Homo sapiens: one gene and its partners. The protein of the gene in region 3 binds, or shares a complex with, the protein of the main gene of each other region. Each region holds a gene or a part of one and is shown on either strand. Other genes may lie near its edges. The genes, in order: BPTF, CDK2AP2, RBBP7 and EED.

What was found.
Region 1: RBBP7 (region 3) and BPTF share a complex: the UniProt entries of both Homo sapiens proteins name them as parts of the BPFT-SMARCA1 complex.
Region 2: RBBP7 (region 3) and CDK2AP2 share a complex: the UniProt entries of both Homo sapiens proteins name them as parts of the nucleosome remodeling and deacetylase (NuRD) repressor complex.
Region 4: RBBP7 (region 3) and EED share a complex: the UniProt entries of both Homo sapiens proteins name them as parts of the PRC2/EED-EZH2 complex.

Annotation. Positions count from the first base shown.
Region 1 is NC_000017.11:67,905,477-67,912,505, reverse strand, and holds part of BPTF (nucleosome-remodeling factor subunit BPTF), read right to left. Parts: intron 2,925-7,029; coding exon 2,745-2,924; intron 1,630-2,744; coding exon 1-1,629. UniProt on the Homo sapiens protein: Regulatory subunit of the ATP-dependent NURF-1 and NURF-5 ISWI chromatin remodeling complexes, which form ordered nucleosome arrays on chromatin and facilitate access to DNA during DNA-templated processes such as DNA replication, transcription, and repair.
Region 2 is NC_000011.10:67,505,974-67,512,260, forward strand, and holds CDK2AP2 (cyclin-dependent kinase 2-associated protein 2), read right to left. Parts: upstream 2,190-6,287; 5' UTR 2,110-2,189; coding exon 2,028-2,109; exon of another isoform or gene 1,717-2,027; coding exon 1,619-1,716; intron 1,525-1,618; coding exon 1,392-1,524; intron 1,040-1,391; coding exon 972-1,039; 3' UTR 524-971; downstream 1-523. UniProt on the Homo sapiens protein: Acts as a component of the histone deacetylase NuRD complex which participates in the remodeling of chromatin.
Region 3 is NC_000023.11:16,860,360-16,867,388, reverse strand, and holds part of RBBP7 (histone-binding protein RBBP7), read left to right. Parts: intron 1-4,288; coding exon 4,289-4,434; intron 4,435-7,029. UniProt on the Homo sapiens protein: Core histone-binding subunit that may target chromatin remodeling factors, histone acetyltransferases and histone deacetylases to their histone substrates in a manner that is regulated by nucleosomal DNA.
Region 4 is NC_000011.10:86,261,729-86,268,757, reverse strand, and holds part of EED (polycomb protein EED), read right to left. Parts: intron 4,587-7,029; coding exon 4,495-4,586; intron 2,676-4,494; coding exon 2,542-2,675; intron 303-2,541; coding exon 197-302; intron 1-196. UniProt on the Homo sapiens protein: Polycomb group (PcG) protein. Component of the PRC2/EED-EZH2 complex, which methylates 'Lys-9' and 'Lys-27' of histone H3, leading to transcriptional repression of the affected target gene.

The DNA of each region.
Region 1 (7,029 bases), on a different chromosome or scaffold from region 3:
CTTCTGAGGTTTCTATTTCCATATCTTCTACCTGATTAACTGAATTGCTTTCTGGACAAGATGCTGAGGGTGTGGTCGTCTGTGTACTGTCAGACTCTTTGGTTGATGGCAGGGTCTCAAGGCTATCTCGGTAGTTACCTTCAGCATCTGAAGAACTCAGCAAATGCGATTTTGTTTCGGAGCTGTTTCTTTCATTAAAATCTTCCATGATGACATCACCATTAATGAATGGCCTTATAGCAGATTCTTTAACAGTCAATGATTTAATATCATTCTCAGGGATTATTTTATTTATATTATTAACCTTTGGTTCAACATTACCACTTACTACTCTACTCTCAGAAATTTCTTTCAAGCATTCACCTTTCAAATATATTTTGGGTTTATTATCTTTTCCATTTATTTGAAATGTACTTGTTCTCTGTCCTTTCTTTTCAGACTCTCGATTTTCATTATTCTTTTTGTCAGTGGTATTTTTTAGCTTTATTTGATCACTACATTTATTAACTGGTCTCTCCTCTAATTTCTTCTGCTGACTTGGTTTTTTACCATTTGCTTCAGTCCCCTTGACCGGCAGCCTGTCCTCACAGTTTCCAGTGGACTCACCAGAAACCAACTCACACTTTAACGGCTCCAAGACTTCAACATCTTGTTCTCGAGTTCTGAACTGTTCAGAAATGCTTTCATTGCTATTCTGAACAATCATATCTTCTTCACTGCTATCCTGAATAGACACGGTATCAGAACTATTTTCCAAAGTGCTATTAGATTCAGAGTCACATCCCAGTTTTCCTTCAAAGTCCATTGCTCTTGACAGAGGTGTGGCATCTCTGTCATTGGTACTTTTAGGCACTGATGAATGTAAAGCACTCTTGGAAGAAGAAACAATGGTGTCACTTTCCTCCTGTATGAGCGGTTTTTTGTTCTTACAGATCAAAGTACCAATATCATCTGCACTGGCTAGTTTAGAGTCATCGATGAAAAAATCATTTCCTTTTGTTTTACTCTTACTGGGTTCCTGGCCTCTACTGGCAAGGTCAGAGACTTTTTCTTCTATGTCATTTTCAATGGAATTTTGTTTCGGACATTTTGTTTCTGGGCTCCGAATGGAGACATCATCTAACACTCGATCTTTTGGATAAAGTTTGTTTGTGGTATGACTAGGATCACTCATTCTAAGAACTGAGGAATCACTTTCTGAACATCCCTGAATCAAGTCCTCAGGTTGATCATTATTTGCATTTGGGCTCTGTTCTTGTCTCATCGAGTCACTCTGACACCCTTCTTTTGCTTTCGTTATTACTGGTGATTCAGAGAGATTTTTTGAAGAATTTGTAGAAGTCTTTCCTATACCCTTAATTCCACCCTCCAACTTGATTTTTTCGAGTCGCTGTTTTTCTTCCAGTGTAAACTGTTTAATTCTCCTTTCAAGAAGTCCATCTAGTTTGGATGATTTTGTTTTCTTTTTGTAACTAGTCCTTAGATGAAAACCCTCACTAACATTGACCACATCTACTTGAGAACTCTCCTGACAATTTACATGTGACTCTGTTTTCATGTCATCGTCTACTTCCATTGGTTCTTCCTTGCAGGGTTTATCACTGTCAGAATCTAAGAGCTCCTTCACATCTGTGAAACAAAGACATTTATATAAATGTAATTTTTACTCTGAAAGGAGGAATTTATATATATATATTTTTTTTTTTGAGATGGAGTCTCACTCTGTTGCCCAGGCTGGAGTGCAGTGGCATGATCTCAGTTCACTGCAACCTCCGCCTCCTGGGTTCAAGCAATTCTCATGCTTCAGCCTCCCAAGTAGCTGGGATTATAGGCATGTGCCACCATGCCTGGCTTATTTTTGAATTTTCAGTAGAGACAGGGTTTCGCAATGTTGGCCAGGCTGGTCTTGAACTCCTGACTTCAGGTGATCCGCCCACCTCAGCCTCCCAAAGTGCTGAGATTACAGGCATGAGCCACCACGCCCAGCCAAAAATATTTTTTTAAAGTATCTCTAGCCACATGCATTATCTAGCTTATCTAGTTTTTTTTTAAAAATGACTTGTTACAAAAGACAATGTAGTTCCTCAAAAGGTTAAACAGAGTTACCATATGATCCAGTAATTCCATTCCTAGGTATATCGCCAAGAGAAGTGAAAACGCATGGCCACAAAAAACTTCTGCATGAATGTTCATAGCAGCATTATTCGTATAGCCAAAAGAGGAAACAGCCCAATGTCCATCAACTGATGAATGGATAACAAAATGTGGCATATCCATACAGAGTATTATTCAGAAACAAAAAGAAAGTACTGATAAATGCTACAACATGGATGAACCTTAAAACCATGCTAAGTGGATGAAGCCAGCCACAAAGGACCACATATTGTCTGATTCCATTTCTATGGACTGTCCAAAATAGGCAAATCCAGAGAGACAGAAAGTAGACCACTAAGCTGGTGGCACTTTCGGGAGGGGTTGGGAAGTAACTGCTAATGGGTATGAATGAGGCTTCTTTTCAAGGTTATGAAAATGTTCTAAGATTGATGTAATAATGGTTGAACTTTGTGAATATACTAAAAGCCACTGAATTTACACTTTAATTGGGTGAATTGTATGGGATATCAATTATGTTTTGATAAAGCTGTTATCAAGAAAACACAACGCAGTACCTTTCCTGTGGTGGGACCCTGATCCAGTGCATTCTTATCACCCCCAGGCTGCCCTCCACAGCTGACTCTCCTTACCTTGGTCCTTCTTCTCAGTAATCTTTGAGATATCCATTTCATTTTGGTCTGCTCCTTTTGCAGCATCTGAACCTTTTACCTCATCTTTTTCAGAATCAGGCTCTATTTTTATTTTTTTTGGACTTCGTGAACATTTTCTTTTATCTGACTCATCCATATTTTCATCCATATTATTTTTGGCTAAAAAGAACCATGTAACGATAATTTACGTTATTTCCAGAGTATTAGCACTTTAATATGTCAAGTTTAGTGAAAATAAACAAGTAATTTCCAGCAAGTTATGTTTCATTTTTTCATTTAAAAAAAAAAAAAAGACAAAGGTCTTATTGAGTATAAGGTACCATATAATCCTATATGCCTGGCTGACCTAAAACACAGAAGGAATGCCTGAACTTCAGACATTTCAGAAAACTTTGTGAACATTTTTGGTGAAATATGATTTAGGAAATTTGTTTTAAAACACTGCAGGATAAAAAAAAAAAGGGGGGGGGGGACCTGGTGCGGTGGCTCATGCCACTGCACTCCAGCCTGGGTGACAGAGTGAGGCTCTGTGTCCAAAAATTAAAAAAAAAACAAAAAACTGTGATTCAGTAACATAGTCAGCTACAAGATAAACATTAATACTATAGGCTGGTGCGGTGGCTCATGCCTGTAATCCCAGCACTTTGAGGGGCCGAGGTGGGTGCATCACCTGAGGTCAGGAGTTTGAGACCAGCCTGGCTAACATGGTGAAACCCGATCTCTACTAAAAATACAAAAATTATCTGGGTGTGGTGGTGCACACCTGTGATCTCAGCTACTCAGGAGGCTGAGGCAGGAGAATTGCTTGAACCCAGGAGGCGGAGGTCGCAGTGAGCTGAGGTCACGCCACTGCACTCCAGCCTGGGCGACAGAGTGAGACTCCGTGTCAACAAAAAAAAAAAAAAAAAAAAAAATTGTCAGTGACAACTGAAACAAGAGTGATAAAATTTGGATGGGTGTAGTGGCTTATGCCTGTAATCCCAGCACTTTGGGATGCCAAGGTGGGCGGATCACTTGAGGACAAGGAGTTCAAGACCAGCCTAGCCAACATGGTGAAACCCCGCCTCTATTAAAAATACAAAAATTAGCCAGGCATGGTGGCGTGCAACTGTGATCCCTACTCAGGAGGCTGAGGCAGGAGAATCGCTGGAACCTGGGAGTTGGAGGCTGCAGTGAACTGAGATCGTACCACTGCACTCCAGCCTGGGTGACAGAGTGAGACTCCATCTCAAAAAAAAAAAAAAAAAAAGTGGTCAGTGACAACTGAAACAAATGTGATAAAATTTGGGTGAGTGTGGTGGCTCATGCCTGTAATCCCAGCACTTTGGGAGGCTGAGGCAGGCAGATCACTTGAGGCCAGGAGTTCAACACCAGCCCAACAAGGTGAAACCCCATCTCTACTAAAAATACAAAAATTAGCCAGTCATGGTGGTACGAGCCTGTAGTCCCAGCTACTTGGGAGACTGAAGCAGGAGAATTGCTTCAACCTGGGAGGCAGAGTTTGCAGCGAGCTGAGATGGTGCCACTGCACTCCAGCCTGGCTGACAGAGCAAGACTCTGTCACACACATAAAAAAATAAAATGAAAGAAAACTCGTGTATGAAGGATTATCACAATCTATTTGATCATTCCAGAAAGCCCATATCAGTGGTTTCTAACATACTTTGTGTCACAGAACCCTATTAGAAATGGATAAATGCTATGATCCTCTACCAAGGAAAAAAGTATGTATATAAACTTTTGTAATCTATTTCAATGGTTCTTGGACTCCTTGAAGTTTATATAACAGAATAAAAGACTGAAAAAAAGGATCAAAGGCAATCTGTGGCCTTGTTTACTGCTTACAGTAAAAAGGTATCTCTAAGACAACCAGGGCAAGTGGAATATGGACTGAGAATCAGATTATTAATTTGTTAATTACGGTTAATTTGTTGAGTGTGATAATGACATGATGGTTATGGAAAAATGTCTACGTAGAGATACATATTGAACTTCTGGTGAAACATGATTTCTGGGATTTATTTTAAAACACTGCAGGATTAAAAAAAGTGGTCAGTGACAACTAAACAAAGAGTGATAAAATTTGGCTGGGAGCAGTGACTCACACCTGTAATCCCAGCACTTTGGGAGGCCGAGGCAGGCAGATCACTTGAAGTCAGGAGTTCGAGATCAGCCTGGCCAACATGGCAAAACCCCGTCTCTATTAAAAATACAAAAATTAGCTCGGCGTGGTGGCGGGTACTTGTAATCCCAGCTATTTGGGAGGCTGAGGCAAGAGAATTGATTGAACCCGGGAGGTGGAGGTTGCAGTGAGCTGAGACCATGCCACTGCACTCTAGCCTGGGTGACAGAGCAAAACTCCATCTCAAAAAAAAAAAAAAAGTGATAAACTTTGATAATTGTTGAAGCTGAATGAGTTCATTATTCTCTTTGTATTTGTGTAGTTTTAAATTTCCCATAATAATTACAAAAAAAAAAAAAAAATCAAGCCTCCCAAAACAGAACTACTGTCTAGATGAATATTCTTGGGACTTAAAGGTTTTTTTTTTTTTTTTGGAGACAGTGTCTTGCTCTGTCACCCAGGCTGGAGCACAGTGGGTTCATCTCAGCTCACTGCAGCCTTGAACTCCTGGGCTCAAACGATCCTCCCTCATCAGCCTCCTGAGTAACTGGGAATACAGGTGTGTACCAATATGTCTGGCTAATTTTTGCATTTTTTGTAGAGATGGGGATTTGCCATGTTGCCCAGGCTGTTTCTTGAACTCCTGGGCTCAACTGATCCTCCCCTGCCTTGGCATCCCATCACAGGTGTGAGCCATGGCACCTGGACTTAAAGGCATTTTCCTATTCTTTACCTTCTTCACTTGAACCTAAATATCCCAAGGACCTAGCAAGGTATATCCATTTTTTATTTAAATGAATGATTTCTTCCAGAAAGGTCTGGCTGAAGGGAAGAGAGTGCAAAGAAATCATAATTCTGTCGCGAGCAAGATACTGGTGTGAGAAAATAGATATAAAAAATATATCTATTTTTAATTTAAATGAATGATTTCTTCCAGAAAGGTCTGGCTGAAGAAAGAGAAGAGAGTGCAAAGAAACCGTAATCCTGTCAAGAGCAGGATAGTGGTGAGGTAAGAGAAGAATCACAGAAAAGGGCTTGGGACCTGCCAGCGTTCTATCACTCTGTGCATATGTGGTCTTCACTATGTCACCTGGCACCCTCGTGAAATAATCGGCTCATTGAACTTGAGTTTAAAAACACATGATCTTTTAAAAGAGCAGTTCATCTCTATAGAGTTCGGTGATTCTAAATACTAAAGCTCATTAGCCAGTTGTAAAAACTCAATTAATAGCTTATTTATAGGCCAGGCGCAGTGGTCACACCTGTAATCCCAGCACTTTGGGAGGCCGAGGCGGGCAGATCACAAAGTCAAGAGATTGAGACCACCCTGGCCAACATAGTGAAACCCTGTCTCTATAAAAAATACAAAAATTAGCTGGGCATGGTGGTGTGCACTTTTAGTCCCAGCTACTCGGGAGGCTGAGGCAGGAGAACTGCTTGAACCCAGGAGGCGGAGGTTGCAGTGAGGCCAGATACGCCACTGCACTCCAGCCTGGTGACAGAGCAAGACTCCATTTCAAAAAAACAAAAACAACCCCTCCCCCCAAAAAAAACCTCATTATTTTTTTAAATTATACTTTAGTTCTAGGGTACGTGCGCACAACGTGCAGGTTTGTGACATATGTATACATGTGCCATGTTGGTGTGCTGCACCCATTAACTCTACATTTACATTAGGTATATCTCCTAATGCTATCCCCCAACCTCCCCCAACCCCACGACAGGCCCCGGTGTGTGATGTTCCCCATCCTGTGTCCAAATGTTCTCACTGAAAAACCTCATTTATGTGACAGTGTTTTGGAAGCCTCTATCACTTTCTTTCTGGTTTTCTCTTACTTGCAACAATGCTAAGGTTACTAGATACATGACTCCTCAGTGAATTAGTACTGAATTAAGATTTTTTTTTTTAAGAGATTGAGTCTGGTTCTGTCATCCAGGCTCGAGTGCAACAGCACAATTATAGCTTACTGCAGCCTCAAACTCCTGGCCTCAAGCAATCCTCCTGCCTCAGACCCCCAAGTAGCTGGGACCACAGCCATGTGGCACTACACCTGGCTAATTTTTAAAACGTTTTTGTAGAGATGGGGTCTTGCTATGTTGCCCAGGCTGGCCTTGAACTCCTGGCCTCAAGTGATCCTCCTG
Region 2 (6,287 bases), on a different chromosome or scaffold from region 3:
GCTGGGTTCATGGGATCCCACCCAGCCTGCTACAAGGTGCTGGGGCAGTGACGGCAGCACCCCGCCAGCCCCTCCCCTTGACACTGAGGCCAAGTGCTGGAAGCAGCAGTGCCCTTTCTCTCTGAGAAGTCAGAGACCTTCAGGGCTGATTCAGAGGCTGGGGTGTTGTCAGGGCATTAGGGCGTGTGAGGGAGTGGCTTACGTGAACTGGCATTTCCATGCTGCCAGGCATCACCGCCAATCCAGAGGAAGCGCCCTCCAGGCCCAGGCTGCCCACAGCGCCAAGGGCTGTGGAAGCAGCCAGGCCCTGTGCTGCCCCCTGGTGGCACCACAGGAAGGCCCAGGGCTCTCAGCGCCACGGCTGGGGCGGAGAGGGCCCAGGTCCCACCAAAGGCTGATGGCCTACAGAGGCAAGTCAAACCTCATTTAATCACACCCTCCCCATCCATAGTCTCCTCTTCCCCTGTCTCTGCCTGGCCCACCCAGGCTTAGCTGAAGAACCAGACCCAGAAAGGCTCAGAGCTGAGAGCACAACTCCAAATCATCTTTTATTAATATAAAAAGGGCATATTTAGCAAAAGACACACAGATAAAAGAGTCACTATGGCTCAGGACACAAGGCAGGGAGGTGCCAGGCCTGTGCCCCTGCTGGGGGAGAAGGAGGCTCGGGACAAAGTGGGAGAAGTGCTGGGAAGGGCTGAGCGGTAGGGGCCACAAAAGTTCCGGTGGGCAACACTGTCGGCAGGTCATGGGTGGGACTCATGGGGACCTCGCTGCTAACTCTTGTTGTGGGGGGGTGTCCTTAGTGCTGCCACCTGGAGGGCCACTCCTTGGTTCCTGGAGGGGACCCACCAAGGGACACAGGACAGGAAGCCCAGGATGGTTAGTGCAACTCGGGATGAAGGCCAGGGAGAAGCGGGTGCTCTGCAGTGGCCGGATAGGTCCAGACGCTGAGGCCGAGGCGCTTCCTGTTACGTGCGGGCGTTCCGCTCTGTCTCTGCCAGGCACTCTCTGACTAGGGCCCGGGCATGGATGATACCTGGGGGTGGGGTGGGGTCTCAGCAACCCTCCACAGCCCCACCCACTGCCCTCCAGAGGAGGACCCCTGCCTCCCCACTCCCTTTCCACTTTCGGCAAAAGAAATTCAAATCTAATGACGGCTAGATGAAATTAGAGGTTTGGTTAATCCTCAAGGTTGCCCTGTTGAAATACAAATTCCCATGCTCTTCCCTGGAAATGGACTCAATTTCAATTCGATTCAAAACACCTCTCTGGTAGTAATACTGGACATCCTCTAGGCTTGGCTCAGGTGGCCTCCAGATGTCCTTCCTTCCCTCATGAAGGATAGTCCAGTGTCGGTTTCCTGAGCAGGGCGGCCTGGCCTCACTTACCTCTCTTCAGGCGCTCCATGGCGCTCTTGCTGCCAGCATAGGTAGGCCGGATCTCTTTGCCCATCTCCTCTATGACTGACAGCAGGTCCGTGTAGGTGCTCTGGGAGCCCTGGGCGCCGGGTGGCTTCATCGCCTATGTCAAAAGAGAACAGGGCAGTGAGCTCAGGCACCTGGCGGGGAGGGGGACTCCAGTCCGCATCCATAAGCAAGGCTTTGGCCCCACTCACCTGCACGTAGCCCATGGAAGGCGGTCCAAAGTCGTTAAACAGCGGTCTGAAAGGAGCGCCGGCTCCTGGCACTGAGCCCGACGGCGACGGGACGCTTCCTGCAGCAACAGGCGCGAGTAAGAGGTCAGCGCGGGGCAGGGACGCCGCCTCCCAGCTTTTCCAAGCCCAGGACCGGGTTCGCCCGATTCCCTCCAAAGGATGCTTCATTCCATGCTGATCAACTTCAGGGACAAATCCCTCCCACTGCGCTCCACCTACAAGCCCTTACGTGACCACGCCCACTTCACAGGCCAGCAAACTGAGGCTCAGCGAGGGTAGGCGGCAGGCCCAGTATTGCAGAACTCAGGCCGTCTTCTCTTCGAGACCTCGACCGCCCGGCAGGCGAGCAGGGGTGGAGCTGGATCCTCACCTGTAGGGACCGGGGTGCCCGGCCCAGGGGTGCTGGAGCCAGGGGTGCTGCTGGGAGCAGGGGCGATGGGTTTGTAGGACATCCCCAACTCCTGGGCGCGGCGGACGCCAGCCGGCCGCTCCTCGGGGGTTGGCTGCGGGGCCGCTCAGCCGCGCTCTGATTGGCAAGCGGGCTGCACGCCCCTGGTAAATAGAGGTCTGGCCGGAAGGGCGAGCGGGCACGAATGCTCCCTCACTCCCGATTGGTGCGCGAAGATGTCACTCGAGCCTCCTTATTGGCCGAGACCTGCCCCAGCAGGTCGCAACCGCCGCCGATTGGCCTCCGCCTTCCGGACCTCGCACCTGTCTGCTCCGGATTGGGCGGTGGCCACCGCCCTCCGCAATTGGCGAGTTCGCGGCCCGGGCCGGCGCGCTCTCAATCCGATTAGTCCCCAGGCCCTAGAGGCGGGGCCTTGGGAACCGGGACCCGGGGCTGGGCTGCCGGTTCGCGCCGAGGGGTCTTCCCGGGCGCGGGCGCTACCCTCGCGCCTCACTCGCGCTGCTTCAGACGTCTGCTCCGCTCTGCCCAGTTTCGGCCCAGCAGGGGTTGCTGTCGCAGCTGCCGTCGCCGCTGCCACCGGTGCCTTGCGCGCTTCTCCGCTCTGGGGGCCGAAGGACGCAGGGCTTTGACGTCCCGAGCCCTGCGCCCCACCCCGTGCGCTTTTACGTCACCTTTCACCGGTTCAACACCCGCTCCCCGATCTGCGCATGCGCCCGCCCGAGGCCTGCGTTTGTTCCCATGGCAACAGGCCCCTCATGGATGCCGCCACGTACCGTTCTTCCTGCGGCTTGGCTCGTCCTCAGGTCTAAGGGCGACCTCAAAGACCCCTTTACCCGCACCCCCAAGGCCCCGCGCTGCTGCCTAAGTTAGTGACAATGGCCGTAGGGCAAACCTTCGGGATTACTTGCGTGCCGGGCCCCGGACCAAACTGGTCAAGAGCACCGACTGGAGCCAACCGTCTGGGTTCAAATCTCAGCACCACCCCCACTAGCGATTTCCCCCAGGCAAGTTTCTCACCTCAGTATGCCTCAGTTTCCCCATCCGTAAAATGGGGAAAATGACGATCTCATTGGGTTGTGTGGATTAAATGAATAGTCATAAAGTGCTTGTTGTTTCATTCTCCGCCTTCCTGTCCCACAGGGCCCCCATACCTTTCCACTCCACCACTCAGACCCCTCCCCTCAAGTCTCACTCCCCACAGAGTTAGACCTCAGACCCTCCTCCACTCCCTAACCCTTTCTCCCAGGCTCCTTCTCCAAACTCAAACTTCTCTGGCCTTGTGTATCTTCATGCTCCCAGCTTTGTAGATCTTCATCTCTAGGACAGTCATTCATTCATTCATTCATTCATTCATCCAACAAGCATGTTCTGGCTGAGCGCGGTGGCTCACGCCTGTAATCCCAGCACTTTGGGAGGCCGAGGCGGGCGGATCACGAGGTCAGGAGTTCGAGACTAGCCTGGCCAACATGGTGAAACCCCCATCTCTACTAAAAATACAAAAATTAGCGGTGTGGTGGCGGGCGCCTGTAATCCCAGCTACTTGGGAGGCTGAGGCAGGAGAATCGTTTGAACAGAGGTTGCAGTGAGCCGAGATCGTGCCATTGCACTCCAGCCTGAGCGACAGGGCAAGACTCGGTCTCAAACCCCCCCCCCAAAAAAAACACACAAAAACCATGTTCTGACTCCCTCCTCCGTCCCATGCCTTGTGCTGAACGCTGAGGTTACAGAAATGAACAGGCCATGGCCTCTGTACTCAAGGAGGCCTTATACTCTGAGACAGGGAAGCAACGTCTTCTTTACATTGCAGTAAGTCAATGGCCACAAGGGATAACGGGACAGGATGCATTGGAACTTAGAGGAAGGGCCTGCCGGGTGGCATCACAGAAATCTCTACAGACTAGGTGGCATTTGAGTAGGTGGGGGTGGAAGCGGAGACCGAGGGGACACTCCAGGTAGAGGGACTGTCATGTGCAAAATCTTGGGAAATGGGAGAGCACAACATGTGTTTGAGAACCAGCCTTTTTTTTTTTTCCTTTTTTTTTTCTGCTGGAGAGTTCACTGGGAAGTGGAGGTGGAGCCGTGGAAATAACCACAGGGTCAGGAAGGGGACCTTAGGTGACGTGGATGTAAGGAAGCTGAGTTGACCACGGAGTCCAGTGCTTCCCTAACTCCAGCCATTAGGAAAACTCCATCAGTTTTGCCATCTATTTAACATTTCCTTGTAATTAATTCACTTTTACAAAATCTTAAATAGAAAGGAAAAGGCATAATGTCCATTTAATCATGTGCTCAGTATTTATAGTTTTCTAATACATATTCAGACTCAACTACTGTTAAAAAGAAAAGGTGTTGATCAGGTCACCCAAGGTCTTCTGCTCCTACTGGTGGCACTGAGGGTGCGCTTCAGAGAAATCTACTGTGGATAGTAGGTGAAGAGGAGCCACTGAGGGTTATACCTCCTTTGGAAACCACCAAGCCCCAACTCCTTCTGTTACAGGAAAGGGGTCTGGATCCATATCCCACCAGAGGGTTCTTGGATCTTGCACAAGAAATAATTTAGGGTGAGTCCACAGAGTAAAGTGAAAGCAAGTTTATTAAGAAAGTAAAGGAATAAAAGAATGGCTACGGACAGAGCAGCCCCAAGGGCTACTGGTTGCTCATTTTTCTGGTTATTTCTTGATGATATGCTAATCAAGGGGTGGATTATTCATGCCTCCCCTTTTTAGACCATATAGGGTAACTGCCTGACATTGCCATGGCATCAGTTTACAGATGGGAGTGTAGCAGTGAGGACGACCAGAGGTCACTCTCATCACCATCTTGGTTTTGGTGGGTTTTAGCTGGCCTCTTTACTGTAACCTGTTTTATCAGCACGGTATTTATGACCTGTGTCTTGTGCTGACCTTCGATCTCATCCTGTGACTTAGAATGCCTTAACCATCTGGGAATGCAGCCCAGTAGGTCTCAGCCTCATTTTACCCAGCTCCTATTCAAGATGGAGTTGCTCTGGTTCAAACACCTCTGACACTTCCACACCTTAGACCTTCCTACTTTCTCCACTGCCCATTCTATTAGTTACTGCAGCCTTGACCTCCTGGGCTCAAACAATCCTCTTGCCTCAGCCTCTCAAAGTGCTGGGATTACAGGCAATAGCCACTGGCCTAATTCCACAAACAAAATAAAATACCATAGACTGGGTGGCTTAAACAACTAAAATTTATTTTCTCATGGTTCTGGAGGCTGCAAGTTTGAGATCAGGATGCTAGCACGGTTGGTTTCTGGTGAGGGCTCCCTTCCTGGCTTGTAAATAGCCACCTTCTGGCCACGTCTTCATATGTGCTCCTTGGTGCAGAGAGAAAGAACAAGCTTTCTGGTGTCTCTTCTTATAAGTACGTTAATCCTGGAAGCTGGGCAGGGAGGTGCAAGGCTGTAATCTCAGCTACTTGGGAGCTCACATGGAAGACTTGATTGAGCCCAGAAGTTTGAGTCCAGCCTGGGCAACACAGTGAGACCCGACATCTAAAAAACAAAAGAAGGGCCAGGCTCGGTGGCTCACTCCTGTAATCCCAGCACACTGGGAAGCTGAGGCGGGAGTATTGCTTCAGCCCAGGAGTTCAAGACCAGCCTGGGCAACATAGTGAGACCCTGTCTCTACAAAAAGTAGCCTGGCATGGTGGCATGTGCCTTTAGTCCCAGCTACTTGGGAGGCTGAGGTGGGAGGATTGCTTGAGCCCAGGAGGTTGAGGCTGCAGTGAGCCGTGATCATGCAACTGCACTCCAGCCTGGGCAACAGAGCAAGACCCTGTCTTAAAAAAATAAAAAAGTAAAAAAACAAAAAAGGACACTAGTCCTATCAAATCAGAGCCCTACCCTTATGGCCTCATTTAACCTTAATTACTTCCTTAGCGGTCCATCTCCAAACACAGCCACACTGGGAGTTAGGCTTCAGCATATGAATTTTGGAGAGACACAAACATTTAGTCCATAACACCCATGTTTGGGGGAAGGGGTTTGCTTGGGAGGTGCCTGAGGGGTTGAACCTTGAATTCATTCATTTATATTTATTTATTTATTTTTGAGACAGGGTCTTACCCTGTCACCCAGGCTTGAGCGCAGTGGTGCAAACATGGCTCACTGCAGTCTTGACCTCCTGGGCTCAAGCAATCCTCCTACCTCAGCCTCCCAAAGTGCTGGGATTACAGGCAGGAGCCACTGGCTTGG
Region 3 (7,029 bases):
GATTTAAAATGTATTAACTAAATTTACCTTTTGGGGGATCTTTTTGACCCACTGTAACATAATAGAAAACAGCAGGGGCTTTAAACTTAGAGACCTGGGTTAAAATCATGCCCCTACTTCTTAGCTTCATGAACTGGGGCCGTGTTGTCTGGGCTGTAAATGGAGATGTTGGTCATACTGACTACCTACATTTGAGGGAATGAAATAAGATCATGCATGTTAAAGTGCCTGGTGCAGCATAAGTACACGGTAAGTGGTGACTGATGCTGATTCTCCCACCCCTTCCTGTTCAGAAATAATTTGTCAGGATTGAAATAGCTCTGTTTCTTCATTTGGATTTCAATGAAAGCTACTTGCTGAAGTTTTTTTTAAAAAAATGTTACCTATAATATGTAATACTTAGGAATGTAACAAAATGCTTTAATTAAATTATTTAATGTGTATCATGGTGTTCTTTGTATACAAAGCTGTTGTGGGATTGGGTTGTGGGATGTGCAGTGGCTTAGAGAATGTAAGAAAATGCCAAGCAGCCTGCATTCTTGGATGTTGAGGATTGTTGTGTGGTGCTTTGCAGGGTTCAGTTTGGGGTATAAAGGGACTGTGTTTTATCACCATACAGAACAGTAAAAATGTTGACTATTCTCAATGCCTGACTCTGAGGAACAAGATCCTACTCCACCTCATAGGCCTTTCTTCTGCTGACTTACAACATGCTTCATAACGATTACTTGGACTTTCTTAGCTATTGTCCTTCAATTGAGTTAGGTAATTGTCCAAATAATTGATTTGGCTGGCTGGCTTGCTTTCTTGCTTTCTTGCTTTCTTTCTTTCTTTTTTTTTTTTTTTTTTTTTTTTTTTTTTTTTTGAGACAGTCTCGCTCTGTCTCCCAGGCTGGAGTGCAGTGGCACCATCTTGGCTCACTGCAGCCTCCACCTCCCGGGTTCAAGCGATTCTCCTGCCTCAGCCTCCTGAGTAGCTGGGATTACAGGTTTGTGCCACCACACCCAGCTAATTGTTGTATTTTTGGTAAAGACAGGGTTTCACTATGTTGGTCAGGCTGGTCTCAAACTCCTGACCTCGTGATCCGCCCGCCTCGGCCTCCCAGAGTGCTGGGATTACAGGTGTTGATTTGGCTTTTAAAAGGTTTTATTTAAGTATCTCTAAGAAATTTGTTTTAATTAGATAGTTATTTCATATCTCTTGTTGAATAATGTCTTAAATATATTGAGACTAACTTATTGTCTACCTAAAAAGCTTTGTAATTTTTCAAATTCAGGAAGTATAAAAGGACATAGAGTGAAGAATAAGTCCCCTTTCCACATCCCTTACTGTCCTACTTCCTTTCCCCAGTCATTGTTTTCAATTTCCTAACCCATCCTTGCCAGCGTGTAGAAGTGCATACCTGTATCTTCATTTTTTATGGTAGCAAGTTCTTCACTTGAGTTTGTCAGTAAGAGTATGTATTGGAGATTTTCCTGTCAGCATGCTTGGATATGCTTGTTCTTTTCAAGAGTGCCATAGAATTTTGTTTATGGATACACTGTGTAATGTATGATACCAGTTCCTTGCTGATGGATACTTAGTTATTTTCAGTCTTTTTCCTTCTATAAACAATACTGCTGAGAATAATCTTGCAATAGGCCAGATTTATGTGATGCTTGGCTAAATTTCCTAGTGGTAGTTACTGGGGTCAAAGGATTCTGCACTGAAAATGAATAGGCTTTCTTAACCATTAGTCCTTCTGCAGCCTTTAGGTACATCCAGTATTGGAGGAAAATAGTGTCATATTGATTAGTTTAGGAAAACAGGCTGTGTTTTAATGATGGAGGTGAAGGGATTTCTAGTAAAAAGAAAAGTCCTCATATGATGATCAAGTTGGGGAAAACTGGAATAATTAAATTTGAGTCCAGAGGGATTTTTAAGCTCCTCCAGTCCGTCTTGGGACAGTGTTCCTTAGAAAGGGCCTGTGATAAACTGACCTACCTGTTATTTTTTACTTGTTGGTCTTAGTTTTCCTGCTCAACTCCACAAAAAACAAGTGACTTTTTTCCTTTGATGACAGTACCAGCATTGCTCTGTGGTGCCTTCTTTCTCTCAAGCATTATTATTTCTCTTTTTAAATATTTATTTAAATTTTTGTTTTTTGTTTTTGTGTTTTTTGTTTTTTGTGGAGATGGGATTTTGCCACGTTGCCCAGGCTGGTCTCGAAGTCCTGGGTTCAAGCAATCCGCTTGCCTTGGCTTCCCAAAGTGCTGGGATTAGAGGCGTGAGCCACCACATCCGGCCAAATATTTATTCTTTTTTTTTTTTTTTTTTTTTTTTTTTGAGACAGGGTCTTGCTATGTTGCCCAGGCTGGACATGAACTCCTAGGCTCAAGCAGTCTTCCGTAGTAGCCCTAGTAGCTGGTACTACGGGTGCACAGCACTGCACCTGGCTTACCCTTTCATTTTAAGCCACTATTCCCTGTAAAGGTTTGATTTTTATCCAAGTCCTCATAAAGTATGTTGCTTAGAGCCTAATTTTAATGGTTTTACTGGTTAAAAATAAGTGGGCAAGCCAGATATGGTGGCACACATCTGTAGTCCCAGCTGCTGAAGAGGTTGATGTAGGAGGATCAACTTGAGTCCAGGAGTTGGAGGCCAGCCTGGGCAACATAGTGAGACCTTGTCTCTTAAAAAAAGAAAAGGTCGGGGGTGGGGGGCACATGTGCTCATGTGCATTGCCCCCTACATACATATAAAGACCACCTAAGATGGAATTAATTAATTTTTTGATAGCCACATCATATTCTTGGCCCACTGTGCATGTATCAACCAAGACCCATGTTTTCTTTCTTTTTCTTTTTTTTTTTTTTTTTTTTTGGAGACGGAGTTTCACTCGTTGCCCAGGCTGGAGTGCAATGGTGTGATCTTGAGATCTTGACTCACCACAACCTCCACCTCCCAGGTTCAAGTGATTCTCCTGCCTCCGCCTCCTGAGTAGCTGGGATTACAGGCATGCGCCACCATGCCCGGCTAATTTTGTATTTTTAATAGAGATGGGGTTTCTCCACGTTGGCTAGGCTGGTCTCGAACTCCTGACCTCAGGTGATCCGCCTGCCTTGGCCTCCTAAAGTGCTGGGATTACAGGCGTGAGCCACGGCGCCCATTTGTCTTTTTTTCAAACACGTTGCTATTGCTTAGTCACGGCTGCCTTACTCTGTTTTGGGGGGAGTGTGTCTGTGTGTGTGTGTGTCTCTTCTCCATGTGCACACACTTTTTTACCGTAAGCCAAATTTTGGTAAAATTGCATCTTGTATTTTCTTATTACTAAATTACTTGCCTAGAAGTAATCTTCAATCTTTTTAGAAAAAAAAAAAAAATTGAATCCTTTGTGCAGCTGAAATTTAGAAACAGATAAATGGCCTAACTTGTCTTGTGTTAGGGCCTAGACCCCTACTTCTCAGTCCTCTTCATTGAAGTGGGACCATGGAGCACAGTTGAAAATTGTATTCTAGATAATACAAATGGGAAAGCCTTTTTAATAGATACTGATGCAAAAATCACTGCTCGGACCAAGGTGCCAAGAGGTTTGGGCAAGTTCTTCAGCCTCAAGGTGTTTCCACAGAACAAGGTAACAAAGATACCTCGGTAAAATTGAGAATGTTCGTTTCATAAACTTAGGTATCATAAACGTCAGTGAGTTTCACATCATGCCATTTGCACTTATAGCCTATTTTATTCAGTGAAGAAACTGAGGCCCCAGGGAGGTTGTGTTTTAAGCAACTGCATTTTAGTTTGATCCAGGATTTAAGCTAAGTTTTTTTGATTCAACACTTTCTGTCCATACTACCTTGTAGAATTTCTTATTGGGAAATAAGAAACATCTAGTGTATAAGATATTTTTAGGTGGGAAGAAGATTTCTTTAGGTGGGAAGTTGTGATTTATGAGTGTGGGGATTGTTGGTGGATTCCTGTGTAGATGTTTGTCTGTGTTTACTGAGTTGGGCCTACCTTCCCCGGAGTGCTGCTCTATAAAAGGTAGTGTTCACGCTGATAATTGAGGCACAGGAGGATGGCTCTTTGGGAAAGAAGCAAGCCCTCTGCATGTTGTAGCTAGAATATTTTCTTATATTTGCATATGTGGGGATTGTAAAGTTGGTAACCAGAGGGGGAGAAGATACACAGTTGATGCTAAGTATATATTTGCTAAAGAAATATGAATGTATTTTGAGGGAACTAGACTGAATTTGTTAGCAATTGGAGATTTCTTGTAGGATTAGTGTGACTTATTTTCTTTCTTAAACAGACCTGAAGGAAAAGATTATGCCCTTCATTGGCTAGTGCTGGGGACTCATACGTCTGATGAGCAGAATCATCTGGTGGTTGCTCGAGTACATATTCCCAATGATGATGCACAGTTTGATGCTTCCCATTGTGACAGTGACAAGGGTGGTAGGTATATCATATATTCCAATATTGGTGTCAAAGGGAAAATGTCTCTTTCAAAGCATATGCTATTAAAACTATACTATTAGCTTTTGGCCCAGTAATTTAACTTCTAGGACTTTATTCTACAGAACTTCCCACCCACATGTGCACAAGGATTTTAGTCGTAATTGCAGAATTGAAAAATTAGGATCAACCTTGTAACCCAGATGTTGGTTCATAGAAAGTTGGTTAAGCACATGGTATGTTTGAAATACTACTCAGCAATTAATAAGAAAGGCCAGGTGCCATGGCTCACGCCTATAATCCCAGCACTTTGGGAGGCCAAGGTGGGAGGATTGCTTGAACTCAGGAGTTCAAGCCCAGTCTGAAAAACACAGACCTCATTTCTACCAAAAATTTAAAAAAAAAATTTTTTTTTTTAATGAGAAAAATCTGTAGGCACTGGTATAGGAAGGTATCCAAGATAAATTAAGTGACTAACTGCTATGTGTAATTACAGTATTCCACTTTGGTAAAAGTAATATGTGTTGGTGTGTGCAATGGGTATTTTTTGTTTGAGGAGAGAGGCAGTAGTGGTAGGGTTAATTCAGGAATCTGTTGGCTGCTTTTTTCTTTTTTTAATTTGTCAAACATATACTCTCCTGTTTTGGTATTCCCATGACCACCCCAAGTTTGGTGATTTTGCTAGGACTCCCAAGAGCAAATTATACTTGTGGCTAAAGTTTGTTACAGTAAAGAACACAAAAGCAGCAGGAAAAAGATGTACATCGGCAAGTTCAGGGAGGTCTGGCACAAGTCTTGTCCAAGGCCACACAGGATGTGTCTTCCGGCAGCAAACTGCAGGGACATGTGTGAAATATCTCTGCTCAGGGAAGCCTGTTTGGGTCTTGGGGTCTGAGGCTTTCTTGGGGGACTAGTTGCATAGGCACATCCTGCTGACAACCAGCCACAGCAACTGTAACTTGAGGACCCCAGTAATACAAACTGAGGACCCAGTAATAAAAGAAGGTACGTGTCATCAATCTTGATATCTGCAGAGTAACCCTGACAAACTGGTACAACGCGGTCCATTGCTCCAGGTGCACACCACAAAATCATCAGTTCATCAGTGACAGAAAGAACATTCTGAGGTGCATGTTCCCAGGAGTTAGCCAAGGGTCAGTAATAGGGTCCCAGTGTTCCTCAGAGACTCCAGGGCTAAGCACCCAGACTGCTGTATTAACTCTTTCTTCACAGTCCCAAATGGCTTAACGCTATTAGCACTTTCTAATATGTGCCTTAGGGTTTTTTTCTTATTGAAAATAAAATACTGGCCAGGTGCAGTGGCTATACCCATAGTCCCAACACTTCGGGAGGCCAAGGCAGGAGGAACGCTTGAGCCTGGGAGTTTAAGACCACTCAGGGCACACAGTGAGACATTGTCTCTATCAAAAAATAAAATTAAAAATCAGCCATGTGTGGTGGCGCATGCCTGTAGTCCTAGCTACTTGGGAGGCTGAGGATCGCTTGAGCCCAGGAGTTCGAAGCTGTAGTGAACTAGGATCACACCACTGCACTCCACCCTGAGCAACAGAGCAAGATCCTGTCTCAAAAATACTACATTCTCTAGTGTAGTGAAACTGCTAGGTTGTATGGTGTATTCATTGTCAACTTCATAGAAAACTATTTTCCAAAGTGATTTACCCAGTTTACTACTCCCACAATTTACTGTTCATTCCCCGACAACTGTATGCATTATTTCTTTAAATATTGGGGTTTTTTTGTGTTTTGTTTTTGTTTGTTATGAGGCAGGGTCTCGCTCAGTCGCCCAGGCTGGAGTGCAGTGGTGCAATCTCGGCTCACTGCAACCTCCACCTCCTGGGTTCAAGTGATTCTCGTACCTCAGCCTCAAGAGTAGCTGGGATTACAGGCGTCCACCACCATGCCCGGCTAATTTTTGTATTTTTAGTAGAGACTGGGTTTTGTCATGTTGGCCAGGCAGGTCTCGAACTCCTGGCCTCAAGTGATTCGCCTGCCTAAACTTCCCAAAGTGCTGGAATTACAGGCATGAGCCACCACTCCCGGCCTGAATATATTGTAATCAGAAATTTTTAAATGGCTTTTAGCCCTGAAGTATGTATTTACCGGGCTTGCAGTTTAACAGTCTCTGCATAATGATGTTAATATATTATTAAAGTTACACATCCAGTGTATTCTAACAAGTAGCTGAAATAATTCAGTTAATACCTTTGTTAATATTCAGTATATATATTTTTTTTTTCTTTTTTTTTTTCTTTTTTTTTTCGAGACGAAGTTTCGCTCTGTCACCCAGGCTGGAGTGCAGTGGTGTGACCTCAGCTCACTGCAACCTCTGCCTCCTGGGTTCAAGCGATTTCCCGAGTAGCTGGGACTACAGGCGCCCGCCACCACACCTAGCTGATTTTTTGTATTTTTAGTAGAGACGGGGTTTCACCTTGTTAGCCAGGATGGTCTTGCTTTCCTGACCTCATGATCCGCACGCCTTGGCCTCCCAAAGTGCCGGGATTACAGGCATGAGCCACCACGCCCGGCCAATATTGAGTTACATTTTTTAATGGATATTATCATTAAGACAGTGAC
Region 4 (7,029 bases), on a different chromosome or scaffold from region 3:
TTTTATTCTTAAAACAAGTTTCTAAATATATCAAAATATGAGACTTTAAAAAAGGCAACTTCCCAGCTGCCATTCAATTTAATAAACTACATAAAGTGCTCCCTGCCAAGTTCCAACATGCGCACACACATACACACACACACACACACACACACACACACACGATGGAAGTACAGCTTAACTGCAGTTACCATACCTTAGAAAGTATCAAATCGCCTAACCATCGCACACAATCAACATAATTCCTATGTATGTCTCTGGTAGAAAAATCAGGAAAATGGATTTTCTGAGAAATAAATGGCCTGAAGGAAGAATGGAAATGTAAAAAGTTAAAAGAAAAAATTATAGTAGAATCATACTCTTTTTCATTTTTGGATTTATAAAACTTGGAAAAACAAAATGTAAGACTATTAATTCCTCTGTGTTCCTACATAACCAACCACCTTATCTATTTATTGAAAGCTAAAGTCTCATTCCACTTTTGTTTATTTTTCTCCATTATTATCCAATTTTATCTTTGTCCTATGATAGATACTTTGTTTATAAACATTGTAGTTTCCTGCGTTTTACTATATATAACCCAAAATTAATCACCTCAATTCTGGGTACCCTAACCAATAATAAAGGCCTGATCAGTTTCTCACTGAAAATATACTAAGCTACCTACTCAGTCCTTAAAATTAAGCATTAATAATCTATGAAAGTCAATATATCTACACTATTTCAAAAGATAGTCATCTTTCCAGGAACAACTAAACATCATTCCAAAGTCTGCTAAAGATACATCTACAGTCCTGCCTTGAGCAATAATTTCTGAAAATGATGCCTTACAGGAATTTAAAATTTCTTAAGTGGGGGTGGGTGCGGTGGCTCCCAGCACTTTGGGAGGCCGAGGCAGGTGGATCATCTGAGGTCAGGAGTTCGAGACCACCCTAGCCAACATGGTGAAACCCCATCTCTACTAAAAATACAAAAAAAAAAAAAAAAAAAATTAGCCAGGCATGGTGGCGGCCGCCTGTAATCCAGCTACTTGGGAGGCTGAGGCAGGAGAATCGCTTGAACCTGCGAGGCAGAGGTTGCAGTGAGCCAAGATTGCACCACTGCACTCCAGCCTGGGAAACAAGAGCAAAACTCCGTCTCAAAAAAACAAATAGAACAAAATAAAATTTCCTAGGACTTTTCCAAATAATTTCTGTATTTAGGAAACTAAATGGCAACACTGTTTTCATTAGAGATATTTGTGAGAAGAAACAAAACAAGCTGCTATTAATTCTGGAGTTATTTAACAGTACACTTAACATTCCTAATATACTCAGTTTTAAATCAGAAATAGCTGTATAAGTATAATATGCCATGAATTAGTTGTCTTAGGCAATTCATATGTCCTCTCTTTACCTTTTCCCTCAGATATGTAAAAAAGCACTTTGGATTGGAGCAACTCAAAACAATCCTTCCAATTCAAATTCTGGGATATTTTGTTGAAACATTAAAATGTTATTCGTGATCTGATATAAATTCTTAACTCTGCTATAATTATATTAATTGCTTTTTAGCTAAATACATACTATAATTGTATGGCCAAACCTCTCTCAAAGAAAAAACGAGTACAACTGTTATTTTTTGAAAACTCTGAAATATAGTTTGTATTTATTCCAGATATCTAGAAAATAATCTAAAAATATAAATTTAACATTGTCCTACTAGCTCCTGGTGTTTTAAAGGAGAAAGGTAAAACTTTTAATAATTCTTAGAGGACACTTAGGTCTGATGAATGTTAGTGCATTGAAATATTTACTGATGCTTACAAATTTAATAATCTATTAACAATCTGGCTTGATAACCAGAAAATGAATTCTAGCTCTTTGCTAAAACAAAAGTGCCAACAAAGTTAACATGCAGACATACAACGTTTATAGTGAAAGTGTTAATGACAGCCTGATAAGATTCTAAAGACAGTTACTGCATTAAGAATTGAGACATTTCAAAAATATACTAAGAAAACTGCAAAATTCCCCAACCTATAGTACCATGAAGTGAGGCTCCTGCATTTGAATTCTCTCCATTTAATCAAGTGAGCATCATTTAGGGAAAAACATTATCATGAATTAGAGCTAAGAACTCCATTGTTTAAAACTGTGGTTTACCATCTTGAATTAGAATTAGCATCATTTAAAAAAAGTTAACATTATTCTAAAGTGTCCTTTACTCTCCCTAGTCCATAATAAGCTTAAGTGATTTAAAACTTTTACATTTATAACTTAAAAGGCCAAGCATATGCATACCAAAATACAAATAAGTAAAATGTGCTACTAAGTTAAGATGACAACACAATTTAAAGGGGATTTTGAAAACTAAGCCACAAACACTGCAAATAAAGGACTTCTTAAAGGGGTGAATTTTACAGTATGTAAATTGTCCCTTAAAGTTAAAAGAAGGTCTTCTAAACTCATTGTTGGGGCTTATATAGCAATTTTGGGAAAAAATAAAACTTATATTCAATAGCACAACATAGCAAATTGTTTCAAATACCACAACTGTTACCTGTTAGTTTTATTTGGATTATAATCATAAGATTCCTTAATTGCATTCATCATTCTCTTTGAATTGATCCTCCAAAGTTTAAGAGAATGATCCATACCACAGGACATTATTTTTTCACCCAAAAGATCATAATCCTGTATGCAAAACCAAAAAGTTTTATATAAATTACAGCTCCAAATTATATTTATCCAATTTTTGCCTAATGTGCAACATAGTGAAAACTGTATTTCAAATCACAATACAAACTACATTTTGGGTTTCATCTAAATAGGCCATAAATCAGAGTTTACTACTTTCAAGATTTACAGCTTTAATTAGTTTGTCAACATCGGAATATAAGAGCATTTACAATGTATAAACCAAGAAAAAATTACTTAAACTTAGTTTTATCTATTCAATTACACTAAAATATTTATTTTGCTTATTTTGAAGGTAAATTGAATACTAAGTTAAAATAATTATTCTGACACAAAGAGCTGAATAGTGATATTACTTTTCCTATCCAACCTCAACCAACCAATGAAACTGACATGTGCATGTGAAAATACATGAATCCTTAAAGAGCTGACATCTTACTTTATAATTCTAAGTCAAAATATTTTGAAGTTAGTTTTAGAGTTCACTTTTAAGTGAATTTTTAAAAGTCTAATAAAAAACAGATTTTAACTTTTTTCATTTGCTGTTTACTAATTTTTAACAGGCATGTAACAGATCATCTATTGTAACAACCTCATTTCATAGGCAGACACTAAGGCCCAGAGATGCTATTTAATTTAGCAAAAGGCACATAATGAGTAATGAAAATCTCACACACCTATCCACCTCCAGTGAACTCCTGTATTACACAGAAGAGCTACATACTGTCTCCTGCTCTCATTCTAAGAAATAACAGTAGAGAGTTCTATTGAAGGAGTATATTTTCCTTACTAACCTAGATACTATATGTTAATCCAGCCTTTGCATTAATTATGAGCACCATTTTATAAGAGCCTAAGAACTTTAGGCTTGATGTTTATTGAATTCACAGTTGTGGTACTTCTAATTACCTCACTGTCAACAGCAACAAGACATCCTTCGAGACAATACCACTAATTTGGAGTTATTAATAAAGAACAGTTCACTTGGCTTTTACACACATAAAGCCAGACGTAGAATGCTACTGCAACTTTTAGGAAATCCAAGTTGACAAGGTATTCGAAGGAAGGTATGATTCTCACAAAGGAATCCAAACTTCAACATAGGAATATTTTAGTACCTTCAACTAAAATGTTACATGCTGTAAAATATGGTGCCCCTTTACATAGTTTAATGGAAAACAACCTAAGAGATGTGAAATTACTACAGGAATCAAATGAGCTAAATATGGAACATAAGCAAAAATAATGTTAAAATCTGAAACCTAACTAAAAACACTTGTATAATGGACCAATGGATTACAATACATCAATATAAAGGTGGTATTTATCTTTAAACTGGTCTTGTATTATACCACGCCACCCAAAGAGAATGGCTAGAAATAAGTTACCTAAAACAGTGTGAGCACAATAAAACACTTCCAAATAGCAAAAAACGTTATGTTTCAACTTCAAACAAAAGATGGAAAAGCACTTTAATGGCTACATAGTTTAATTTTTTTCTTTAATAACTGCGAAATGGCAAAACAAACATTAACTTAGTGATTTTAGATTAAAAGGAAAGGAGCAAGATCATACTGCTCTCATAAGACTCCAGGGATTGGTATACAGTGCAAGTAATTTAAAAAATAAATAAATAAATATAGTCTTTACTTGTTTTATTCCTTCATCTGGAGATTAAAATCTTCTATGTCAAATGTAAGTGAATGTCTGCCTGACAGGCTACATGAAACACACTTTCTTATAAGGAAACAGTTCCATGGAGACTGTTCACAGCTATGTAAACCTGAAAGTCATTGCCCTGCAGTTTCCAACTTACAGCACTTAGAACTTCATCTCTGTGCCCTTCTACGCCTCCAAATATTGCCACCAGAGTGTCCGTCTGGATATTCCATAATCGTAAAGCATGATCTAGTATAAACATACAAAAATTAGGCGAATGTTTTTTATTTACTGTGAACTTTCAACATCTTGTGAAAGAAAAACTACTAAAGTCTAGATGTAAGTTATGCACAGTAAAGCCTAAAAATGGAATCCATATTACATAGCAACTTAAAATGTTTACATCAGATGTAGAATTAGCTAGGTAAGTGCTATAGTTTGAATAGGCCCCCCCAAAAGCATGTGCTAGAAACTCAATCCCCAATGCAATAGTGGTGTGAGCTGGGGCCTAATGGGAGGTATTTAGGTCATGGGGGCTCCATCCTCACAAATGGATTAATACTGATTATAAAAGGGCCTGAGGCTATAAATTCAATCTCTTGCTCCCTCACACCCTCTCCTGCCCTTTTGCTGAGACGATTCAGCATGAAGGCTCTCACCAGATGCCGGCACCATGTTCTTGGACTTCCCAGTCTCCAGAAACAGGAGCCAAATAAATTTTTGTTCATTATAAATCACCCAGTCAGGTACGGTGGCTCATGCTTGTAACCCCAGCACTTCAGAAGGCCAAGATGGGAGGACTGCTTAAGCCCAGGAGTTTGAGACTAGCCCTAGCAATATAGCAAGACCCTGTCTCAACAAAAAATTTAAAAATTAGTGAAGCCTGAGCAATAGAAAAGAAATTAATTAATCCATCAGTCAGTCACCTAGTCTGTGGTATTGTGTTATAGCAGCACAAAATGGACTCAGACAGAATGTTGGTACTCAGAAACGGGACTATTGCTATAAATACCTGAAAATGTGGAAATGACTTTGGAACTGGGTAACGAGGAGAGGCTGGAAGAATCTGGAGGAGCAGGCTAGAAAAAGCCTATATTGGTGTGAGTGGAGCATTGAGGGTAATTCCAGTGAGGGCTGAAAAGAAGACAAGAGCTTCAGGCAGAGCCTTTATCTTCTTAAGGATTACTTAAGTGGTTGTGATCAGAATGTTGGTAGAACAATGTTGGTCTCAGACAGAATGAGGTTGGTCTCATTCAGTGAGGTCTCAGACAGAAATGAGAAGTTATTGGAAAATGGAGTAAGAGCTATCCCTGTTGGCAGGGTGTGATGGTTCATGCCTGTAATCCCAGCACTTTGAGATTGAGGCAGGAGGATCACTTGAGGCCAGGAATTCAAGACCAGCCGGGGTAACATAGTGAGACCCAATCCCTACAGAAAATAAATTAGCCAGGTGTGGTGGCGTGTACCTGCAGTTCTAGCTACTTAGGGGACTGAGGCAAGAGGATCAATTGAGCCTAGGAGTTTTGGGCTGCAGTGAGCTATGATCATGCCACTGCACTGCCTGGGTGACAGAGACCAACCCTGTCTTTAAAAGAAAAAAAAAAAAAGCCAGGCCAGGTGTGGTAGCTCATGCCTGTAATTCCAGCAGCATGGGAGGCTGAGGTGGGTGGACACTTGAGCTCAGGAATTCGAGACTAGCCTGGGCAACATGGTGAAACTCCATCTCTACAAAAAATACAAAAACTAGCGGGGTGTGGTGGCATGTGCCTGTAGTCCCAGCTACTCGGGAGGCTGAAGTGGAAGGATCACTGGCATGGTGCCGGCATCCGGTGAGGGCCTTCATGCTGAATCGTCTCACAGCAAAAGGGAAGGAGAGGGTGTGAGGGAGCAGAGGTTGTGCCACTGCACTCCAGCCTGGGTGACAAGAATGAGACCTTGCCTCAAAAAAATAAATTAAATAAATAAATAAAAGCCATCCTTGCAATACAGTTGTGAAGAACTTAGCAGGACTGTGTCCATGCCCTAGGACTTTGTGGAAGGCAGAAGTTAAGAGCAATGAATCCAATACCTGGCAGAAGAAATATCTGAGCATCAAAGCATTCACAGTGATGCATGGCTTCTTCTGGCTGCTTATCATAAAATGAGAAATGATCTAAAGGTGAAATTTGTAATTAAAAAGGAAAGCAAAACAGAAACATTTATAAACTCTCAGCCTGGCCATGTAAAGAAAAAAAAAGCAGGCTGGGTGTGGTGGCTCACACCTGTAATCCCAACACTTTCGAAGGCTGAGGTGGAAGGATCATTTGAGCCCAGAAGTTCAAGACCAGCCTGGGCAACATAGCAAGTCCTTGTCTCTTCAAAAAATATATAAAATAAAAAAGCATGTTTGAGAGAGAATATTAAGGATGTAGCTAAGTGACTAATTGCTAAGGAGATTAATAGGGAAGAGAAGGCAGGTTCTATTCACCAAGACAATGGGATAATGACCACAAAGGCATTTCAGAGATCTTCAAGACATAGCTAAGACCTTGAGGGCAAGGTTTCCAGAGTAGCACCCATGGGACCTCTACATTCACTGTCCAGGGCCACTTCAGCACTTTGCTCCCCCTATTCCAAGGCAGTGCTCTTTGGTCACCCCATAGCTTGAAGGGGCTCAAGTATGGCTCAGGCCATAGCTTCTGAAGGTACAAGC